Regions from separate parts of the Homo sapiens genome. Here region 2 is linked to region 1. A link means that fine-mapping ties the variant in region 1 to the expression of a gene that starts in the linked region. Tissue or cell type: whole blood. Region 1 holds a variant in brackets; the other region holds the start of a gene. All regions are shown on one strand. Distances are from middle to middle.

The links. PIP is the estimated chance that this variant, and not a neighbour inherited with it, causes the effect.
Region 2: it holds the start of BBS10, and the variant in region 1 is fine-mapped to the expression of BBS10 in whole blood (TOPMed, PIP above 0.99).

The regions. Positions count from the first base shown.
Region 1 is chr12:76,546,840-76,554,947 of GRCh38, reverse strand. The region is part of intron 1 of OSBPL8 (oxysterol binding protein like 8); the gene reads left to right. Among named protein-coding and RNA genes, the nearest start is that of OSBPL8, 8.9 kb to the left of the region's middle. The variant G/C (reference allele first, on the strand shown) is at 3,649.
Region 2 is chr12:76,344,259-76,352,351 of GRCh38, reverse strand. It overlaps BBS10 (Bardet-Biedl syndrome 10), which reads left to right and starts at 3,937. Exons shown (of 2, transcript NM_024685.4): 1 at 3,937-4,190; 2 at 4,565-7,878. The coding sequence starts at 3,994. The coding sequence ends at 6,539. OSBPL8 (oxysterol binding protein like 8) reads left to right here. Exons shown (of 24, transcript NM_020841.5): 24 at 1-555. RefSeq lists enhancers at 3,536-3,585, 2,732-3,681, 3,682-4,631.

The sequences.
Region 1 (8,108 bases):
TTGATCCATGGAGCAGTCTGTCCTTTGTATAATATTTGGAAGAGAATTTTATTATAAAAAGACTAAGAAGAGTCTTGAGCCTTTTTATTATACAAAGACTAAGAAGAGTCATCAAATGATAAGCCAGTTACCTACTAATTTCCATATTCAAAAAGGACTGAAAAAAAGAGGAAATGGTTTCAGAGCTTGACTTTTTTCAAATAAAAAGGAGAAGCTTTTTGATTTAGAGTTTTTGAAAACTTGATAGATTCAGAGGGAAATTGTTATAGGTCATATTAATAGCTAATGTGCGTCAACTGCTATATACCAGGTACTGTACTACTCTAGAAGTACTTGACATGTCATCACATTTGATCCTGACAACCACCCCGCAATCAGGCTATTTTCTTTTTTTTAAACCTGAGCAACTGACAGATTAAATAAGTGGTGGAGCCAGGATTTGAACTAAACCTGAGGCACAGAGAAGTTAAGTAGTAGGTGGTAGAGCCTACTAAAAGGATTTAAACTTGAGGTTTAACCTGACCTTTGACTTTGGAGCCTATCCTTTTAACCATCATATTATATACTGCCTTGTATAATTTATTTGCAGTTGCTCCTCTTGATACGTCTTGACCTTGTGATCTTCCTGAGTCTGTTTTAGTTGTGTCATTTACAAAATGCACTTTACTTTATAAGAAGATGGAATATAGCCTTGATTTTTTTTCTCTCATTTTACTTGTATTTGACTGACATCCTATTTTTAAATCTTAAAAATACTTAGAGTAAAGCAAATATTTATTTTATTGTTCATCCAGTTGCCATTTTCTCACTGGGGAATTTCAGAGAATTTCGGAGTAACTGGAAATTAAAGAACATAATAGATAACAGTATTTAAAGCTAAGTTGTTATAATTAAAAAATAGTTTTAAAGAATAAGGCTGATTCACAGAATTGGTATGCATTTTTTTTTAGTGTTTTTTTTTTTTTTTTTTTGAGATAGAGTCTCACTGTGTCACCTAGGCTGGAGTGCAGTAGTGTGATCTTGGCTCACTGCAACCTCTGCCTCCCGGTTTCAAGTGATTCTCATGCCTGAGCCTCCTGAGTAGCTGGGATTACGGGTGCATGCCACCATGCCCAGCTAATTTTTTGTATTTTTAGTAGAGATGGGGTTTCACCATATTGGCCAGGCTGTTCTCGAACTCCTGACGTAAAGTGATCCACCTGCCTCGTCCTCCCAAAGTGTTGAGATTACAGGCGTGAGCTACCTCCTCTGGCCTTTTTTTTTTTTCTTCTGATACAGGGTCTTGAGCTGTCACCTAGGCTGGAGTGCAGTGGCACTCACTACCATGGCTCACTGCAGCCTCGACCTCCCAGGCTCAAGTGATCCTCCTGTCTCTGCCTCCCAAGTAGCTGGGACTACAGGCGAATACCATCACACCTGGCTAATTTTTAAGTTTTTTTTTTTTTTTTTAGAAACAGAGTCTCACTATGTTGCCCAGCTTGGTCTTGAACCCCTAGCCTCAAATGATTCTCCCACCTTGGTCTCCCAAAGTGCTGGGATTATAGATGTGAGCTGCCATGCCAGGCCTATTTAGTGATATTTGAGGGACACAGATCTGTACAGTTGAAATCTGTCCTGTTGAGATGACCACCAGTAAGGTAATTTTTGCTTTTTGGCTGCCAAATGCCTACATATTAGCAGGAATAGTTTGTCAGATTACATAATTTTTTACAAGGAAGGCTGGGGCCCATGTGGAAATTATGGAATCTATGTTGGTATATTTTGATGGGATGGAAGTATGGTAGATCTGGAGAGAGAGAAGTTCAATCTAAGTAACATTATTACCGGGTAGAGTAATGAGGTGGGGTGCTTTGGATGTGAGGGCACAGGTACATTGTTCAAGTGGAGAGTAGGATGAGGGACTTCTGGAGACTAGCTTTGCTTAGTGTGTAATTTTGTGCATTGTTATGATTATAATAACTTGTAAGATCAGCAATTTGGAAGTAAAGAAAAGCAGTGCTGTGCATCATAGTGTGGAGTTTGTAATAGTTCTAGGCTGTTTTGCAAGATGTAGGTGCTTTACAAATATCCATTGGTAGTAATGGAAGTGCTCTGTCTTATCACCTATTTTAGAAATCTGGAGAGGCAGAATAGCACGAACCCTGGAGCCAGACTGCCAAAGTTCAGAACTGGTACAGCCACTTACTAGCCTATTGCACTGGCCCTATGCTGACTTGGGGTGGCCAAAAGGGAAGAAAATGGCATATTTAAGCAGAGAGGGGGCCAGAGATAGCACTCTGTGAGTTTTCCATGGTTCTTACATGGTCTGAAAGAGATCTGGATGTTCTCACATATGACTAGTGAAGGAAATAGAAGTTAGTAGAGTGAGAGCCAGGAAGCCTGTCATTAGGCTGCTATTGTGAGGGAGGGACCATGTAGTAGACAGAGGTTGTGGGAAGGGCAGATTCATTTCATTGCCCACAAAAATTTGTGCTCCCTCTTGCTTGCAACATTTTTTTTTTTTTTTTTTTTTTTTTTTTGGAGACATGGGGTATCGCTCTGTTGCTCAGGCCAGAGTGCAGTGGCAGGATCTTGGCTCACTGCAACCTTCGCCTCCTGGGCTCAAGTGATTCTTGTGCCTTAGCCTTCCGAGTAGCTGGTACTACAGGGATGTGCCACCGTGCCTGGCAAATTTTTTGTATTTTTGGTAGAGATGGGGTTTCACCATGTTGCCCAGGCTGGTCTCTAACTGCTGAGTTCAAGCGATCTGCCCGCCTCAGCCTCCCAAAGTGCTGGCATTACAGGTGTGAGCCACTGTGCCTGCCACTAGTTTTTCACTAGTGAATGTGAATAGAAATCAATTTGTTGTCACTTCTGGGTTGAAGTGGCAGAAAAAATAGGTATTCTTTCTTCACCTTCTCTTTTCTAATTCAAGGGCCAGATGCAGAGGTTTAGGCTCTTAAGGGATAGTAAAACCATAAGATTGGAATGTTCTACAGTCCCTAAATTTACCATGTGAAAGAAATTTGTGTACCAAATAGGAATACCCACAATGGATTGTAATATTAATGAGAAATTTTAATTGTGTGAAGCTACCGAAAATCTGGGGTTTATTTGTTAAGCAGCTAGTGTTGCCTTAAGTATAAGCCAGGGACTGGATAGACGAGGTAGTCGAGACTGTAATAATATCCGTACCAGCAGGAGCTGAGGTGGGTGGGGCCAAGTTAGGAGATCCTCTGGATACTGTTCCAACATATTCATCAGCATGTGCCATTGTGACTCTGTGAGGGCCAATATTCAAACCTTAGAGGCCTGTGAGGATCCCCAGGGCAATCCATGGGTCTGTATTCAGGCTAATCATAATACTCCAGATGCCCATGAAAGCTTTATCTTACGCCCAGTCACCATGATAAGAATGAGGAACAGAGAAAATCTATACAAGTCTGAAGAGTTTTCTTAAAGTAGGGTTTCTTAACTTGACTCTGTTGATATTTTGGGCTGGATAATTCTTTGTTGTGTGTTCCTGTGCATTGTAGAATGTATAGCACCATCCCTGGCCTCTACTCACTAGATGCTAGTACCATCTTTCTTAATTGTGACAATGAAAAATGTTTCAAGATATTGCCAGATGTTCCCTGGGGACAAGGTCACTCTCAGTAGAGAACTACT[G/C]CTTTAAAGATTGAGTGAATGAGTGAATCTGAAAGAAATGATTTTAAATGGAAAGAAACTATTATCCTTAATTAAAGAACTTTTTCCCCTTTTAGGGGTTGGGTAAGGTTCATGGGGAGCAGTTCATTTCTGTATATCCAATAAAGGAAGCTATGTTGTTTTTATAAAACATCCTAGTTTCTAGTGTGTGTGTGTGTGTTTTCCTCTCTTCCTTGATATACTATATATATGTTTGTATTATTTTTTGAGTGACAGAGTCTCCTCCTGTCTCCTGCACTCCAGGCTGGAGTGCAGAATTCCTGAGCTCAAAGGATCCTCCTGCCTCACCTTCCCCAGTAGCTAGGACTACAGGTTTGTGCCACTGTGGCTGGCTACTTTATTTTTTTTGTACAGACAGGGTTTCGCTATTTTGCATAGGCTGAATTTGAACTCCTGCCTCCCAAAATGTTGGGATTACAGGCATGAACCCTGGTACCCAGCCTTAATGTTGATTCACCTTTCTCTTTATCAGCTTTAGAAATTACTTGAATTTTCCATTTATTACCTTGTGATTATTTCTTCTAAACCAGTAGCTGTACTTTTTATTGGCTAGACTAAGCTTGTCCAATCCCTGGCTGGTGAGCTGCGCACGGCCCAGGACAGTTTTGAATGCGGCCCAACACAAATTCATAAACTTTCTTAAAACATAAGGAGATTTTTTTGTTTTTTAAAGCTCATCAGCTATTGTTAGTGTTAGTGTATTTTATGGGTGGCCCAAGACAATTCTTCTCTTCCAGTGTGGTCCAGGGAAGCCAAATGATTGGACACCCCTGGCCTAAACAAATACACGTTTTTTCCCCTGTAATCTCAGCTGTCATGTCCACAGGTTGTCTCTAAATTATGAAAACCAATAAATAGTGTTGATACCATGACTGTGTAAGTATTATTTAATGCTAAGCCAGATAATGTGCTTAGATGATTATTCCTTTTCTGTCCCTGGGCTGCCAGAAGAAACATGTTGATAATATAGAGAATTAGTAGACTTTATTTATTTTATCAATTCTGACCATCAAATTAAAAAAAAATTTGGATATGACCAAAATCTAACTTTGGAATTAAAAAAGTTTTTGAATAGGACTTCCTGTTTTTCTTAGTGTCTTAAATTGCCCTCTTTTCTTGTACTATATGCCTCTATTATAGCCTCCCCTACACCCCAGCCCCCCCACACCCCAACTCTTCAGCATACTGCCTTTTGTGCTGCATTCTCTATTTATCTGTATTTGTCTGTAACTCTGCCTCCATTTGGACTCTTCTAGGTCTTTTCTTGTAACTTCCTTTCTCCTTACTCTTGAATTGGATCCATTCTGTTATACATATTTTTTTTTCCTTTTTTTTTTTTGCATCTGCTTGATCTGTTTATTGGAGTACATCTTCAAATAACTCTTTGAAAAAGAAGTATGTATGAGAGGCAAACTTTCCGAATTCTGTGTAAAAAAGTCTCCATTCTATTCTCACAAATGATTGATAATTTGGCTGGGTACAATATTGTTAGTTAGAAATAATTTTCCTTTAGAACCCTGAAAGGATTGCTTTGTTGTCTTCTAGCATCTAGGGATGCTGATTAGAAGTCATACATCAACGCCTGTAATCCCAGCACTTTGGGAGGCCGAGGCGGGTGGATCATGAGGTCAAGAGTTTGAGACCAGCCTGGCCAACATAGTGAAACCCTGTCTCTACTAAAAATTAGCTGGGCATGGTGGCAGGTGCCTGTAATCCCAGCTACTTAGGAGTCTGAGGCAGGAGAATCACTTGAACCTGGGAGGTGGACGTTGCAGTGAGCCGAGATCAAACTACTGCACTCTAGCCTGGGTGAGACTCCGTCTCAAAAGAAAAAAAGAAGGAGTCATGTATCAGTCTGATTCACTATCCTTTTAAGGTGATTTGTTCTTTATTCTGTCTGAAAACTTTTAGAATCCGTTCTTTTGTATCTTCTACAAAGTCATAATGAGGTGTATAGGTCATTTTTGTTTTGTTTGGCTGTTTGTCTAGATACTCAGTTGCTCTTACAGTCTGAATCAGATTATTTTTCCAATTCCAGGAAACTCTTCTCTGTCTTTAATAATTTCCTCCCTTCATCATGTTTTTTGCTTTTCAGTAGGCAGTTGCTTTCTGTCTTGATCTTCCTTCTCTCATCTTTTATATTTTGTGGGTTTTTTTTCCCCTTTAGTATTTTGGCTGATTTTCCTGGGGGTAATCTGTAAGTTTTGTTGTTCTCTTTTTCTTTTCCCACCATTTTTACACTATGTTGTATTGTCGTCTTGAGTCTTAGAATGTGCAAATTAGATTTTTTTAAAGATACCTTGTGTCTCCTTGTGTCTAATTTATCTCCTTTTCTCCTCCGGTCAGTTTTTATGTTTGTTTTTGTAATCATTCTTTTTTCATGCTCAGTTTTCCTTATGTGCCTGATAATTCTTGGTTGTCCATTCATGGTTAAGAAAGACAGACTAGGTTCCTGGTCACCCTCCCTCCCCTGTTCCTTGGACTGTTTTCCCTATTAGATTTTTTTTTCTTTGAGTAGGAATTCTGGCCAGAGCACTTTGTGGGGCAAGGTAGTACAGAGTAGGATCTGTCTCTTGGCAGATTGTTTTAGGGTAAAAGAGAGAGGAGCTAGCTGCTAGGCTATGTATGGGCCCTTTAAATGCTGGATGAGATGTGTTTACTCTGTGCCACACCTCCGCTTAGCTTTCCCTAGATAGTGGTTCACTTTCTTTAGGGAAAAGCTGACTTGTTTTTTTGCCTGGAGGTAAAATGTCAGTTGTTTAGAAACTGCTTGGAAATAGGGGATGGGAGATATAGCTGTCCCTTATAGTTAGTCAAGTAATACTCAGTTCTCTTATTTTTAACCCTACTATTTATTTCCACCCTCTGCTGTACCATTTACTTTATAATCATGCTTTCCTGGGGATCTTCTCAGACGTATTGGTTCCCATCCTTTCCATGTCACTCTTAAAGGTTATAATGAGGCTGTGGCTTTTTCCGCTTGTTATTTCTATCAATCTCACATATACTTTCATTTCCCAGAAATTTGTTGGATTTTCTTTCTAGCCTCAATTTTAATTTCTTTACTGTTACGATTTTCTTTCTTTTATGAGTTGTTTTTATTTCAGTGGAGTATCTGGAGTAACTGAAGGGAAAGTTTGTATTTAGCGCCCCATCTTTTATTAGAAGTCTTCTTCTAGCTTCATAAACAGAAGAAACAGAGCCTATTGAACTATTTTTTTGTTAATGCAGATTTATTCATAGAAATTATGATGATCATGATACAGTGTTAAAATACACTTATGTCCCTTCACTATTGATTTGTATAGTTGTTTGTGCCTTTATGCCGCTTGGTCCTAAAACTTGAACTCTGAATTCTTGCTTGCTTCATAGTTTTTGTTTCCCCTTTCGTTGTCCCCTACCCCAACTTGCATGTTGTTATGATTATCTTGCCATTTCTTGTTTGCTACTTGGAAACTGAATGAAACTGTTTAGAATTGTGTGTAAAATAGTGACTTTGCTCCAGGGAATGGCATTTTAGCTTTAAACACATGACCCTTGTGGCATTTTAATTATTTGGAAGTCTTTTGTTCTGTTTCTCAAGTGTATCTAGATGGGTGAGGGGTTATTCTTTTTCATTTACTTCTCTGCCTCATGTGTGATAGCTACTTTGGTTCAGTAGTTGATATTTTTTCCTCCATTGCTTTTCCTTGTCTTCTGTGTTATCTTTGGTACTTTAAATGTTGAGTTTAGATTGCCTGGCAAGTTCATTGGAAGCCTTAATTTTCATTTGTTCCTTTCATTTTCTACTCATAAAAATTTGCTAGCATTGTTTTATTCTTTTTTATTGTTTTGTATTTTTTGTTTTTTTGTTCCTAGCATTGTTTTAAACTTGTCTTTTACTTCTTTTCCCATACTCCTTTTCATAATCTTCAGGCTCCATATTGATTGAGCTTAGAATACTATTGTAAATTAACCTGGGTAAATAAATTTAAATACATTCATCTAATTTCCCTCTCTTCTGTGATATTTCTGCATTGGCAGAATGCAAATCTTGTTTAATTCTGCTCTTAATCTTGTTTAATCGTTTTCAATTCTTTTCTCATAAGATTTTGAAGTTCTTTCTTCTACAGCTATGGTTTTGACTATTGGAATGTGTGTCTTTTGTAATTGGAGTCGTAATTCTCCTGCAGTCAGAGGTTTTTACACGCCAGATTTAAAAAATGCTGACTACTTTGAAGTTGAAAATCCTGTCAGAGGGGTTGTGATTTGGAAGGCTTAAATCCCCAAATTTGGCCTGATTATATAAGGTATTATAGAACTTTCATAGTAAATACTGTACTTGTTTGAAATTTAAAGTAGCTTAGAAAATAATTGGCCCCTTTACATTTTTTTTAAATTTGCTCATTGTCCAGGAAGTCAAAGTTTTAAATATTTTCTAA
Region 2 (8,093 bases), 200 kb after region 1:
GACCAGTGTCTTATTAATATGATTAATATATTTAGAAGAGCCACGTGAAACCCATGACAAAATGAATGTGAATATTCTTTCTAAAAATTTAGAAAATGTTATCTTTTTGCATTTATTATGTAAAACTGTTTTACAGTATCAAAATTTTTCACTTAAAGAAAAAAAATGCCATGAAACATTTGAACTGATGAGCCACAGAACTTCAGTTGAAATTTTTTTCACTTTTTAGCATGCTAAATATACATCTGAGTTTAAATGTTCTGTTTAATGGCCATTCATAAATTCAAGCACTACCACTGGTCAGTTTTGTGTGATAGAATAAAAATATGTTACCTGCAGTGTAAGTACAGCACACTGTCAAATTCTTTTCCTTAAGGTGCACAGTAAATGTACAGATAGTTATAGGCCACTGTTTTGTAATGTAGTACATTTCTAATCTATTATTCCTAACCTATTATAACTGTTTGCAGAAAGAAAAGAATTTTTCTAATAATCTGTAAAATTATGCTAACTTCTACAAGTAGGCTTCTAAATAAAATTTTTAAAAAGAGCAAACGGTGATCAAGTGACTTTTAATACAATATGATGACTAAATTATTGCTAATTTGTTTTAATCCCCCCTTTTGTGGGGATAGGGATAGCTGCAAAGGATGGCAAAGGGCTTGAAAGGGATTCAACAGTGAGAATCCCTGAAGTATGCTTTGCTTGGTGCCTTATATTCATTCTTCTCGAATCCTCTATGAGAACCTTAGGTGGACGTTAGCCAGATTTTATACATGAAGATGCTGAGGCTCAGAGAGGTTGAAAGTCTCCAAAAGCTGCGGAGTAAGAGTGGTAGCCGACTCTTACTTTAAGAGTAAAAGCACAAGTTTGAATCTGTATCTCCGTGGTACACTTAAATAGAACTCTAATAGCACTTCACTTCTAAATGTCAGGAATATAATCCACTGCTTGAATCTATATTGAGTAATGTAACCCCTTTGTTATGAGTAGCACCACAAAAAAACCCTACTATTAAACATATACGAAATCCATATGAAAGGGTTTTTTTTTCCCCCCTCAGATCACCTATTAGTCCATACTGAGTCAACATCAGATGAGTTCCGAGACATCATTCCTCTCTGGTTTTCCCCCACCCTCCTTTCTTCCCATTCTTGCTCTCTGCTCAGGGTCCAGTTGCTTCTGGCTGTCATTTGGTTTGGTTTTATTAATTGGGGAGAAAAAGATGGGAGGGCCTGCCGGTTCCTCCTATCTTGTTCATAGCAATAAGGATTAAGGAAAACGGCCCCTCATTGTCCAACCTCGTGAAACATCTACAAGATCATTTTCTTGCTAATACTGGCATGCTTCGACTCTAGATGATGTATGTTGTGCCATTATGCTAGTTGAATCTTCTGCATCTCACAAAATATCACTTGTGGGAATAATAAACCAGGAGAGTGGTGACCTACCACAGTAATTTGGTGGGTGCGTCAGAGGCATCTGAACCAGAGCAACTCCAGTAATTTGGTGGGTGCGTCAGAGGCATCTGAACCAGAGCAACTCCATCTTGAATAGGAGCTGGGTAAAATGAGGCTAAGATCTAGGCTGCATTCCCAGATGATTAAGGCATTCTAAGTCACAGGATGAGATAGGAGGTTGGCACAAGATACAGGTCATAAAGACCTTGCTGATAAAACAGGTTGCAGTAAAGAAGCCAGCCAAAACCCACCAAAACCAAGATGGCCACGAGAGTGACCTCTGGTTGTCCTCACTGCTATACTCCCACCAGCACCAAAGACAGTTTACAAATGCCATGGCAATGTCAGGAAGTTACCCTATATGGCCTAAAGAGGGGAGGCATAAATAATCCACTCCTTGTTTAGCATATCATCAAGAAATAACCATAAAAATCGGCAACCAGCAGCCCTTGGGGCTGCTTTGCCTATGGAGTAACCATTCTTTTATTCCTCTTTCTTAATAAACTTGCTTTCACTTTATGGACTCGTCCTGAATTCTTTCTTGCATGAGATCCAAGAACCCTCTCTTGGGGTCTGGATTGGGACCCTTTTCCTCTAACAGGTGTAATATAAATATCTGTTGAGTGCTAACTATGCCAGGCACTATGCAAAGTGTTTAGTGAACATTCTCCACCTACTCAAAACCTCTTGAGATTTTTATTTTGTATATGTTATCTCCACTGGTTTTTTTGGCGGGGATTGTTTTGTTTTGAGACAAGGTCTCGCTCTGTCGCCCAGGCTGGAGTGCAGTGGTGCAATCTTGGCTCACTGCAACCTCCCTTCCCGAGTTCAAATTATTCTCATACCTCAGCCTCCAGAGTAGCTGGGATTACAAGCATGCACCACCATGCCCAGCTAATTTTTGTATTTTTAGTAGAGACGGGATTTTGCTATGTTGGCCATGCTGGTCTTGAACTCTCGGCCTCCTGTGATCTCCCACCTCGGCCTCCCAAAGTCCTGGAATTACAGCCATGAGCCACTGCGGCAGGCCCATTGTTTTTAAAGATGAGAAAAGCAGAGATCAAAGAGGTTACTTGGTGAATGCCACAGGTAAGGAAATGACAGAGCAAATCCAGGTCTGAATCCAAAGCCCATGCTCTCAAGTGCCTGTGTTTTAGGCCAGGCAAGGTGGCTCATGCCTGTAATCCTAAAACTTTGGAAGGCCAAGTTGGGAGGATCACTTGAGGCCAGGAATTCAAGATCAGCCTGGGCAACACAGGGAGACCCTGTCTCTACTAAAAGAGAAAATAACCAGGCGTAGTGAGGCACAAAGCGACTTGAAGGCTAAGACAGGAGGATCACGAGCTCAGGAATGCGGAGCTGCAGTAAGCTATGATCTCGCCACTGCACTCCAGCCTGGGCGGCAGAGTGAAACTTCATCTCTTAAAAAACAAAAAAAATGTTATAAGAGACAGTATTTTCTGTCTTTGGGTTATATACAATAATCCTTGGCCATGTGTTTTAAAGCATACTGTTGATCACCGACGTGATTAATGGATTTAAATCTGCACAGCGGCTCATGCCTGTAATCCCAACACTCTGAAAGGCCGTGGCAGGTGGATCATTCAGGTCATGAGTTCGAGACCAGCCTGGTCAACATGGTGACATCCCCATCTCTACTAAAAATACAAATATTGGCGGGGCACAGTGGCGTATGCCTGTAATCCCAGCTACTTGAGAGGCTGAGGCACGGGAATCGCTTGAGCCCGGGAGGCGGAGGTTGCAGTCAGCCGAGATTGCGCCACTGCACTCCAGCCTGGGCGACAGAGCGGGAGTCCATCTCAAAAAATAGAGACTTCGCATCATTTCTGCTTAATATATTTGTGGTGTCTAGAGTTTTATTGTGATACCTGAGTCTAGGAAATGTGGTAAAGCCTCTGCAGCAGACATAAAGCCTGCAATTCATGGCTGTGGCCAGGCTCTCCTCACCTGTCCTGCATCTACAAATTATTTCCGTTATGGTAAGGAGAGCAACTCGTGGGGAATGTGGACAGGAACATGCGTGAATCCAAGGCAGAGGTTTTGCCCCGGAAAAAGCAGCTTCTGGCAGGGGATGAAAGCCAGCAGAGTTCCAACCGGGGTGCCCTCTCCTTCACGCAGGCCCCACTACCGTGTTGACTTAGGAAGAAAGTTTCTCGGGAGACTAAGGGATTTGGGGGCAGCGGACGCCACTGGAGGGAGATGAATTCACCTAGGGAGCCGGGGAGGGGCTTAGGGTTGCCGCTCCAGGCACAGCTGCTGGAAATCCTAGTCTGTTTTTTCTGCCTTCGCGTACAACGGGCCAGCTCACCCCACCTGGCAAAGCTGCAGGGCTTTTCCACCAGGCGGACAGAAGGGCAGCCCTCTCGCCCAACCAAGAAGCCGTGCTACCCCGGCTTCGACTCCTGGCTTCCGGGTTTTCTCCCCGCCTATTCCGTTTCCGGCCGTTCCCACCCCTGTTTTCGGTCGGCCCGGGTGTTCTGCAAGCTGGTCAAAAAGGGGAAGCGGCCCAGATATGTTAAGTTCTATGGCCGCTGCAGGGTCTGTGAAGGCGGCGTTGCAGGTGGCCGAGGTGCTGGAAGCCATCGTGAGCTGCTGCGTGGGGCCCGAGGGACGGCAAGTTTTGTGTACGAAGCCCACTGGCGAGGTGCTTCTCAGCCGGAATGGAGGCCGCCTCCTGGAGGCGCTACACTTAGAGCATCCCATAGCCAGGTACCCGCGTCCCACACGCTAACCCGTAGCCGGGCACCCCAGGCAGCCTCTGTGGAGCTCTTGTCCCATCCTGAGGCGATGCGTACTTAGAAAGACTGACCTCGGGTGAAACCGCTGTATGCTCGGAATTAGAGCCCTGCCCAAGGGAACACTCCTGCACCCCAAATCTTACCAATTCTCAAGACCACTTCTCCCCACTCCACCCAACGGTGGAATCTTGGAATAGAGCAGAGTTTTTTCCAAGAAAGGAAAAAACTAAGGATGTATCCAAGGAACAATATTCTCATTTTATGCTTATGGCTGTGTAAACATGGTTTTAAGATGTGGGAAGCCAGCCTTCTGAAAATGAGTTGCTTTATTTCTTTTTTGTACAGGATGATAGTGGACTGTGTTTCCAGTCATCTCAAAAAAACAGGAGATGGTGCAAAAACATTTATTATCTTTCTTTGCCATTTGCTTAGAGGACTTCATGCAATCACAGACAGAGAAAAGGATCCTTTGATGTGTGAAAACATTCAAACCCATGGAAGGCATTGGAAAAATTGTTCTCGGTGGAAATTTATTTCCCAGGCTCTCCTAACGTTTCAGACACAAATATTAGACGGTATTATGGACCAGTACCTAAGTAGACACTTTTTGTCTATCTTTTCGTCTGCTAAAGAGAGAACATTGTGTAGGAGCTCTTTAGAGTTGCTCTTAGAAGCATACTTTTGTGGAAGAGTGGGAAGAAATAATCATAAATTTATTTCACAGTTGATGTGTGACTACTTTTTCAAGTGTATGACTTGTAAAAGTGGGATTGGTGTATTTGAGTTAGTGGATGACCATTTTGTAGAGTTGAATGTTGGTGTCACTGGCCTTCCTGTTTCAGATTCCAGGATCATAGCTGGTCTTGTGCTTCAGAAAGATTTTTCTGTGTACCGCCCAGCAGATGGTGACATGCGAATGGTGATAGTAACAGAAACCATTCAGCCTCTTTTTTCCACTTCTGGATCAGAGTTTATTCTAAATTCAGAAGCACAGTTTCAGACATCTCAATTTTGGATTATGGAAAAGACAAAAGCAATAATGAAACATCTACATAGTCAGAATGTAAAATTGCTCATATCTAGTGTGAAACAACCAGATTTAGTTAGTTATTATGCAGGGGTGAATGGCATATCAGTGGTTGAGTGTTTATCATCAGAAGAAGTTTCTCTTATCCGGAGGATCATTGGTCTTTCTCCATTTGTACCACCACAGGCCTTTTCGCAGTGTGAAATACCTAACACTGCTTTGGTGAAATTTTGTAAACCTCTTATCCTTAGATCCAAAAGATATGTTCATCTAGGCTTGATAAGCACATGTGCATTTATACCACACTCTATAGTTCTTTGTGGACCAGTGCATGGTCTCATTGAACAACATGAGGATGCTTTACATGGAGCACTTAAAATGCTTCGGCAATTATTTAAAGACCTTGATCTAAATTACATGACACAAACCAATGACCAAAATGGCACTTCAAGTCTTTTTATTTATAAGAACAGTGGAGAAAGTTATCAAGCACCAGATCCTGGTAATGGCTCAATACAAAGGCCTTATCAGGACACAGTTGCAGAGAACAAAGATGCATTGGAAAAAACTCAAACATATTTAAAAGTACATTCTAATTTGGTAATTCCAGATGTAGAATTAGAAACATATATTCCGTATTCAACCCCCACACTGACACCAACAGATACATTCCAAACAGTTGAAACGCTGACATGTTTGTCTTTGGAAAGAAACAGGCTAACTGATTATTATGAACCATTACTCAAGAACAATTCCACTGCTTATTCAACAAGGGGAAATAGAATAGAAATTTCTTACGAAAATTTACAGGTCACAAATATTACTAGAAAGGGAAGCATGTTACCAGTGAGCTGTAAGTTACCGAATATGGGTACTTCCCAGAGTTACCTTTCCTCATCTATGCCAGCTGGTTGTGTTTTGCCAGTAGGTGGTAATTTTGAGATCTTGTTACATTACTATCTTCTCAATTATGCCAAAAAATGCCATCAATCAGAAGAAACCATGGTTAGTATGATAATAGCTAATGCACTTTTAGGCATTCCCAAAGTCCTTTATAAATCTAAAACAGGAAAGTACAGCTTTCCACATACATATATAAGAGCTGTCCATGCACTGCAAACCAATCAACCCTTGGTAAGCAGTCAGACAGGTTTGGAATCAGTAATGGGTAAATACCAGCTACTAACTTCAGTTCTTCAGTGTTTGACAAAAATATTAACCATTGACATGGTAATCACTGTTAAGAGACACCCTCAGAAAGTTCACAATCAAGATTCAGAAGATGAACTATAACATCAGAAGTTTTTAATTAACCAAACTTTTCATCTAACTCAAGCCAAGTAAAGCAGTCATGTGACCACTGGTTCTAAAGTCAGTTCAGTCTACTTAGGAAAATAGCGTAACTTTAAAAGTCTTTAGAAGAAGCACACTAAGGTCACCAGACCAGATACAAATATTAAATTACTTTATGGAACAAATCTAGAGGGGAAGCCAAGATTTGGCTAAGTGTGTCTGTTTTTTCCCTATTTTATGCCTCTGTGTCTCAGCTCTGTGTTAGCCTATGTGTTTAGGGGAGGGTTTTTCTTTATAGCTCCTTTTTACTCTCCTGTATCTTTTTCACTCCAGCCCTCCTTCATCGTTACATGTTTAGTTCATAGAATCATTTAATCTCTGATTTGGGTGGGCTTATTCTAATTGTTTTTAATATTGAATACATTATTTGCATTAATTTTCCCTACTCATACTTTGTAAAGCTGAGTAAAAGGCTCAAATTATTTTTTTCAAAAAGCATAAAATTAAATTAGCAGTGAGTAAAAGGCTCAAATTTTTTTTCAAAAAGCATAAAATTAATTTTTACTTTTATGTGGTCATTGGTTTACTGCCACTTCATTTGGAAAACTTGGATAGATTTTCACCTTTGATATACCTTTGAATATATGTTACCTGAAATATAACTGTGCATTGTTAACTCTTTCATTTCTGTAGTAAAAGGTTAATACTAGAAAGGATATGCAATTAATACTTTGATTTTCTCCTGACCCCAAGAGCTTGTAAGGATATGTCATGTATTTACTGGTTTTTCTTGTATCTGGTGCATAGCCAGAGTTCCACAGTAACAAATAATTTGACAATTTTTATTTCTAATGTTTATTTCTGTTTTATTTTTAATTTTTATTTCTAATTTATTTCATTTACAAATGTTCATATTTTAAAAACTTGTCAATGTAAATAATATGATGCATCTTATCATGGACAAGGACAGTGTTTTCTACCTTTATCAGTTCTCTGTAATACCCAAAACAGTGCTGTATTTACTCCAAGTATTCAGAAGTGCTTGTTGAACAAAACAGTGTTATCTTTAATTCATTCCTTTAAATACATGTTTCCAGTTTACTTATTCAACAGATTCTTACTTGGGATTGACTGAAGAAAAAAAACTTTAATTATAGTTGAATAAGTGTTGACTAATGTATTTTAAAAACTATAATATCAAAATTTTTTATATTAAATGTAATTCTGATTTTTTAAACATTTATGCTATATGATGCATTATTTTGTTTCTGTGAATATGGAGAGAATAAATTAGCTCTTTTGCTGAATTCATGGATGAATGAACTTTAAAACTGCTGCATAATTTTTTTCATTTTTTTTTTAATTGCCTTTCAGGTCATTTGGTCACTTTGCTTTTTTTGTGGTTGTTTAAAACACTCCTCCATTACTGTAAGCATTTAATGACTTCCAGACATGCCCAGTGCTTTGCATATGATAAGCATTTAATAGGTATAGTCACTAGTCCAGGAGCCCTGTTGAGGTAGGACTGGGTCTTTGTACGTTTGGCACTTGGTC